Homo sapiens: one gene and its partner. The protein of the gene in region 2 purifies or fractionates together with the protein of the main gene of each other region. This does not show direct contact. Each region holds a gene or a part of one and is shown on either strand. Other genes may lie near its edges.

Region 1 (3,630 bases), on a different chromosome or scaffold from region 2:
AGCATCCTCTGGGAATCTGTTACTAATGCAAATTATCAGGCTTCACCCTAGACCCTCTAGGGAGGAGGCCCAGCAATTCTGAGTAGCCTCACTCGATCCCAGGTCCTCATCCAGGGCTTCTCACGCTTTCATGTTCCTACAGATCACCTACCATCTTGTTCAAATTGAGATTTCCTCCCTCACTTTCCTGTGAGCTTTTGCTAGGGTCCGCCCCTCCAGGGAATGCCTCCCTCCTCCACCTCTAGATGTTTACATGCTACCTCTACATCCCAGCTCAGATGTTACCAAAAGCCACCAAGCTTATTCCCGCATCTGGAAATATCTTTCCCTCTGAATTCCTGGTGGCACTTGCTCTGAACTTTTCCTACAGCACTGAACCCTTTCTGTCTTGCACTGGAGTTTTTACAGACACATCCTCTCCCTTCCTAAACCGTGAACTTGAGGTCGACATGCAGGTGGCAGGCACCTTCTCACTACCCATGGAGCTCAGCTCAGTGCCTGGCACAATAAGCCTCTGCTGAACGCATGAGCAAGGGAAACGCACCACAGCTGTGGAATTGTTGACGGTGTGCTCAAAGATGAAGGGGGTGTCCGGCAGGTCCACAACCACAGAAGATTCTGAGTGCGTTGAGGAGGTTTCTGTCTCCAGCTCAGGGTTGTCAAGGTCCAGCAGGCCCCTTGTGGCCATCTGGGACTTCGATGGGCATGGGCAGGGGCCGAGCGCCAGGTCCTCATTTTCTGCATTCTTGGCCATTGGGGAGAAGCTGAGTTTGTTCAGCTCCCCCTCCAGCATCCCTGCAAAGAAGCTGCTGTTGGGCTGGGTCACAGCTAATTTGATGGGGTTCAGCAAGGTGGATGAGAAGGCAGAGATGCTGGTCTCATCAGAGCTGCAGTCTGAATCCTCTACTGGCAGCGGCTTCCTGGAGCAAAAGGGGAGACAGGTGAATCAGATGAAGGAGGCCACCCCAGCCCGTTCCACCTGAGGGCAGGCCTTGGGCCTGACTTACCAGCATCCCCAGCCATTTGCAAACAGCTTGGAACAGCCTCATTGCTCTATAGCATTGCATTAGACTCACCAGGGCACTTACTAAAAATGCAGACTTTTAGTCCCTGGTCCCCAGTTAGCATGGGACTAGAGAATCCGCATCTTTAATAAGATCCTGGCTGGGCGCAGTGGCTCACGCCTATAATCCCAGCACTTTGGGAGGCCGAGGCAGGCAGATTCAAGGTCAGGAGTTACAGACCAGCCTGGCCAACATGGTGAAACCCTGTCTCCACTAAAAACACAAAAATTGGCTGAGTGCGGTGGTTGGCACCTGTAATCCTAGCTACTTGGTAGGCTGAGGCAGGAGAATTGCTTGAACCCAGGGGGCAGAAGTTGCAGTGAGCCGAGATCACACCACTGCACTCCAGCCTGGGTGACAGAGTGAAACTCTATCTCAAAAAAAAAAAAAAAAAAAAAAAGCTTAGAAAATCCTGATGCAAGTGTTCTGCAAACCACAATTTAAAAAACATGCTAAAATGGCAAGTCCTCCCTCCAAAGTGGGGTGCAAATGCCCCAGGGAATAACCACAAAGATCTACTGGGGTATGGAAGTAATACATTCAATTTCACTAATGTTTATTTACTATTGTTTAAATTTTAATGGAATTACTAATATTTACTTACATTTTAGTGGCATTTAATAATACCTATTAATATCTAGCACGTAAAATTAACAGAAATACAAATACATATATGGGCCAGGCGCGGTGGCTCACACCTGTAATCTCAGCACTTTGGGAGGCCAAGGTGGGTGTATTACCTGACGTCAGGAGTTCAAGACCAGCCTGGCCAACATAGCGAAACCTTGACTCTACTAAAAATACAAAAAATTAGCTGGGCATGGTGGCGGTTGCCTGTAATTCCAGCTACTTGGAAGGCTGAGGTGGGAGGATCGCTTGAGCCTGGTAGGTGGAGGTTGCAGTGAGCCGAGATCCTGCCACTGCACTCCAGCCTGGGCAACAGAGTGAGACCCTGTCTCAAAAATAAAATAAAACAAATATACATATGTTGGTGTGGATGCTCAAAAACTTATTTCTTCCACTCTGAATTTTTTAAAATTATGAAGTATTTTAGACTTATACAAAAATATCAAGAATATTATATTAAACCTCCATTTACTCCTCATCTACCTTTAGAAATAAAATCTTATCACTATGGGTAAAGCCCCCCAGACACTTCTGTCTCCCACCAAAGTCCCCATCCTTCGACCGACAAGTAATGAGTACAGTAAAGTTTAAATTGTGTATTTATTACTCAATGTGTGTCTTTATAGGTTTCTTACATATTTATGTTATCCCTAGGCAAGATCTATTATTTTTCACGTTTGTAGATGTTGTACAAATAAAAGATATTATTCAGCACATACCCATCTGCAACATGCTTTTTTCACTCAACTTTGTGTTGACATTCATCTATCTTGATACATGTAGCTCTGGTTCAGTCGTTTTTACTGTTTTATGATTTTCCATTACATGGATATTTGTTTTTGTTTTTGTTTTTTGAGACAGGGTCTCCCTCTGCTGCCCAGGCTGGAGTGCAGTGGCACAAACTCCCAGGCTCAAGCCATCCGTCCACCTCCACCTCCTGAGTAGCTGGGACTACAGGTGCACATCACCATGTCTAGCTAATTTTTGTGTTTTTCTGTAGATGCAGGGTTTTGCCATGTTGCCCAGGCTGACTTCGAACTCCTGGGCTCAAGTGATCCTCCCAAAGTGCTTGGATTATAGGTATGAGCCACTGTGCCCGGCCTATATGGATATTTGTATTGTTATGAGATGTTTGCTATTACAAAGAAAAACCTTGTACATGATCCCCACCACTTAACATTTCTTTTTTCTGTTTTTACTCTTTTTTCTTTTTTTTTTTTTTTGAGCTGGAGTCTCGCTCTGTCGCCCAGGCTGGAGTGCACTGGTGTGACTTCGACTCACTGCAACCTCCGCCTCCCTGGCTTAAGCGATTCTCGTGCCTCAGCCTCCCGAGTAGCTGGGATTACAGGCCCACACTGCCACATCTGCCCAATTTTTGTATTTTTAGTAGAGATGGGGTTTTACCATGTTGGTTAGGCTGGTCTCGAACTCCTGACCTCAGATGATTTGCCGGCCTCAGCCTCCCAAAGTGCTGGGATTACAGGCGTGAGCCACTGCCCCCAGCCAAACAAAAAACAATATTTTTTTAACTGATGAAGAACACCAAGCCAAAAAGTTTGGCTTTCAAATCTTTTTTTACCTTTACCCAAAGTAAAATACACTTTCCATGGCAACTTAGTACATGCATATATACGCCTATAACTAAGACAAACATTTCACAGACCAACACTTACTCTGTGTGCAATGGGCTCTGGAATTTCCAATTCTATTATAGTTTATTTTATTTATTTATTTATTTATTTTTGAGATGGAGTCTCACTCTCTCAGCCAGGCTGGAGTGCAGTGGCGTGATCTCAGCTCACTGCAACCTCCGCCTCCTGGGTGAGAGTGATTCTCCTGCCTCAGCCTCCCGAGTAGCTGGGACTACAGGTGCGGCCACCATGTTCAGCTAATTTTTGTATTTTTAGTAGAGAAGGGGTTTCACCATGTTGGCCAGGAT
Region 2 (4,459 bases):
CAGATGAGTAAACTGAGTCATGCAGGTGGGAAGTAACTGCCAAAGCTTACACTGATTGTAAGAAGCAGAGTCAGGATTCTAGCCCAGATGCATTGGACTCTGAAGCCCATGCTCTGTCCACTCTGCTGTGCTGCCTCAGAGGCATACACCTGGCATTCATATTTTATTATAGAGCAAAACGTATAAGTACAAGGAAGAAACCCTGAGAAAATATCTAGAGTCAGTTCCCGTTCTACGGAGTTTCAATAGGGACATATAGTTAGTCCAGTACTTTCATATTATCTACGATTGATTGATTGCTTTAATGTACCAAACATGGCTCTTTTCTTCACTTAATTCTTACAACAAATCTCTGAGGTAGCTACTGATTTTATAATCCCATTTCCATGAATGAAGAGACTGAGGCACAAAGAGATGAAGTTGTTTGCCCAAAGTCACAGAGCTATTTTGTGGTAAAGCTTGGATATAAACCACGGTCTTATATAAACAGGGTCCATATGGTCAGATATAAACCACAGGTCATGGCCTTATTCACTTTATTAGATTGCCTCCCCACCTTTGGAACAATCATCAAGACCATGCACTCTGTTTTTCAAAGTTCTATCCATCTTTTGATGACTAAGACAAAAGCCAGGCTAGCCCTAGGTAATGCTATCATCGCTAACTCAGCCTTTGGCAGAAGATGCCCTGTGAGCCCCGTAAGAAACAGACCCTGGCCTGGTTGGACATCTCTCAGGAAGCCAGGCCTACTGGGAAGTTCTACTGGATTTATTTATGGGGGTCTCCTTCTCCACTGAAGATCATTCTAGAGGGATAAGTGAGGACTATGTGCACTTCAGATCTTCTAACAAGTTGTTTATGCCCTTCTCGGTAGAAAAATGTTCCCAACCAGTTCTGGATATGGTGCTAAACTTAAGTAAAATAGCAGTGTTTAAGTCAACTGAGTAAAAAGAACAGTCAAGAGGAAATGAAATAAATAATGTTTTCAAGTTGTCCAGATGCATCACTATTCATTTTATTTCTGTCATCACTATTATTTTTACTTAGTTGATATGTGAATCTGTGCCATGAGGAGCTACTGGGGATTAAATCTCAAAAGACCTAGGAAGGAAATGCCAGCACTCTAATTGCTCAATGGCTGTGTGAAAAATTCTCTGAAAGAAAAAGGCAAGGTTCATAAATAACATGTGAATATTCTTCTCCAAAATGTGGAAAGTGGCACTAGTTGATTGGACGATAAGTAGATGAAATAAACTGCTCTGCTTTGCTAGATCTTATTAAATGAACAGAAATATTAACTTAAATCTTTCCAAAGAGGGTGTTTTGAATAAAAAAAAAATCATAGTTAACAATAGTCACAACCATCAGGTTTGACTGAGTAAGCTGTGAACTGAAAAAAGCTGGTGTCTACGAGAAAGGGGAGAATAAAAAAAAAAAAGATTTCTGCTGACTTGGACTGAGTGAACATTTCTATTCAATGTGCTTAGGCCCTGGGCCAGAGGAGAGCTCAGATACAATGCCAAGGTGACATATTTAACCTCTTTGCAGATTAAAGGCAGTGCAAAAGAGATACTCTTTCTGCAGTACCTCTTGGTGTACTGTTTCAACAGTATTGATCTGCAGTTAAAAGCATGTTTTTTTTTCTTTTCTTTTCCTTTCTTTTCTTTTTTTCTCTTGCAGAGTGACCTTTAATACCTGGGAAGGATGAATAAGCACAACCTACATTATTGCTTTATTTTAGAAAAGAGAGCCAGAAATGGTAGTACATTATAATATGAGTTACCATAATCTCTTTAGCTCTTTAATTCTCTTCTCCCATTTTTGCTTTTGTAAATAAGACATTATCAAGAATTAGAGAAATTTTAGGTCTATGTGTGAGCATCTTAACAAATGATAGTAGGAGGCAAAAAATAATTAGTTATAAAGCTGTAAAAGGGAACCAAGAAAGGGAAAATAATCGCAATAACTTAAAAATAATCAAACAAGAATATAGTATAAAAGGAGAAATTTTCCTACCTTTTGGAAAAGCAAAAAGTTCCGTTTCTACATTGCTGTTAGGCTCAGGAGATTGAATAACTTTAGATAATTTAAACATGGAAAACATACAAATTATTTGATTTGAAATTTTTTTTAAAAACTACCTTCTTTATAGTTTATTTCATATATGTAATAAAGTACTTCTACAAAACACATTTCAGGATTCAGGCTTCACTAAGATCTGAATGCTACTGAGGCGATCAACAGTTCCACATTTCTATTCTTGGTCTTCACTAAAATCACCATCATTTATTAGTACTTGCTATTTAATTTCGCAGGAAACAAGAAAACATGAATACAAATGGTAAAATTCTCTATGAAGTATCTTTTCTGTAAATCACACAAAACTTTTTTTGGTAAATAAATGGCTTTGTATTATTTAGGCAAAAATATTTGACAGCTTTATCAGATCACGCAAATCAGCTTAACAAATGCAATTAGATAATGCCGTAAATTTATTACAACTTACCTTTAAGTAAGGGGCTGGACCCAGAGCCACTGCAGAAAAATTGAAGTTGAATCCCCTCTGCACACAGACAGGGAATAAAAGTTTGACAAACACCCAAGAAAAACTCTTTAAATCCCTTTCCTCGTTAGCTCTGCTTCTTTGCCCAGAGGCATATTCAAGTCTACTGGAGTTGAAATTCTGCTGCTCTGTCAACTAGTGGGGGTCTGAAGTGACAGACGAGAATTTGGAGGTTGGCACCAGAGAGTATTTCAGACTGTCATCGTTTTTGTTGCAGATTCCTGGATTTCCCTAGCAGGCTGGCCTCTCATGCGAGGGCTTTACAGGCAGTGCTTGCAAACCAAAAGGGAAAGAGCTAATTCTGGTGGCGTGGATGGGGTTAACAGTCTTCCCCTCAAGCTCTTGTTCTCAGAGCCTCATAACTTGGCCAGAATATAAGCACTTGGCTCTTTATGCATTTTTTTTCTTTTTCAAACAACTCTGAAAGGTTTTATAAGCAGCATCCCTTTTTTGGAGATTTTTATTTTAAGACCTTGAAAAGAAACTCCATGCTGTTGTTTCTTTCTAAAGGAAATTGGGGAGTAGGGATTAAAGGAGGGAAGAAGAGAAATGGCAGCAGATGCATTTTTACGTTGCTCAATTGGAAATTGTTCTAGCAAATACAGTCTGAATTTTAATAGAAGGGTACTTCAGATACCTTAACCTTCTTTGAATGAGATTTGGAAATGGACATATATAAAAATGATTGCTCCTTATATTATAGATCACTTGTATGCTGATTCAGAAATGTTGCAGTTCTCCCCTCAACACAGCTCTCCACTGTAACTCCATGGTTATAATGGTTGGTATCTAAGAAGGAGGTTTCCCATAAAAAGAATGGAGGTGTGCACTTATTTTTGGCCCGGGATTCTGGTTGTTTGTATGTGTCTAATCTCTTCTACTGCTACTTCTACATTTATCACACATTTATTATGTGTCAGACACTGTGCTAACAGCTTTTTATGCGTTATTATCAGTTGATCCTCACTACGCATGGTAAGTTTTACTGTGTTCCCATTTGAGGGGTAGTGTCATACAGTGGTTGGATTGGCAGAATTTGAGGCCAGCCAGCTTGGATTTGCATCCTATCTTCACCACTTCCTAACTATGACCCGGGACAAGTTATATAACCTCTCTAAAGCATCAGTGCTTTTATCTATAAGACAGGGATATACATATGGAAATGATGATAATATCTATCTCTGCAATTGTTCTGAGTTTTAAGTTAGTTAACATGATAAACTGCATAGAACACCCCTGCCACGTAGCAGACACTCAATAAATGTTAGCTATTATCATTTACATAAGAGGAAACCAAAGCTTAGTAAGGGTGTTTTTTCTAGGGTATCCAACTGTAACTTACAGGATGGGATTCCAAATCAGCTACCATGGCTGACAGCCACACTTGTGTAACTTATCTATAATCCCTCTATTATGTGATATAGACACATATATATATCATACCTGCTTCTGAGAAAGCTGTAAACTCCTTGAAGGAAGGGGATGTGCCCTTTCTGCATTCTCCTGGTGCCTAGCACAGTGCTTTGCATCCTGTAAATGTTCCATTATCATCAGATGAATAATTATAATTTAATTTAATTTAATTTAGATTTTCTAAATGCATGCCAACGTCTGGCCAAAAGCAAAAACACTGACAAAAACAAAATAAAACCAAAATAAACCAAAAACCCCCACCTACATTTCTAGGCAAATATGCCCTCAGCCAAATCTCTCAAAACACTTTAGAATTATTTGCCCTATTTATTTTCAGAACACTGCAAGAAAAAGGTAACAAGGATTATCTCTACTTTGCAGTTGGAGAAATTTGGGAGCAGAGGAAACTGGGCACTTTGCCTAGGAGCCAAAAACAAGTCACGGTGCAGCTGGGAACACTCACGTCTCTAGAATCAGGATAAC

What was found.
Region 1: the proteins of SPARCL1 (region 2) and FNDC8 purify together in Homo sapiens (affinity purification with mass spectrometry; one large-scale study listed by BioGRID and IntAct). This does not show direct contact.

What each region holds. Positions count from the first base shown.
Region 1 is NC_000017.11:35,124,332-35,127,961, reverse strand, and holds part of FNDC8 (fibronectin type III domain-containing protein 8), read right to left. Parts: intron 921-3,630; coding exon 545-920; intron 1-544.
Region 2 is NC_000004.12:87,526,539-87,530,997, forward strand, and holds the start of SPARCL1 (SPARC-like protein 1 isoform 1 precursor), read right to left. Parts: upstream 2,839-4,459; 5' UTR 2,507-2,838; intron 1-2,506.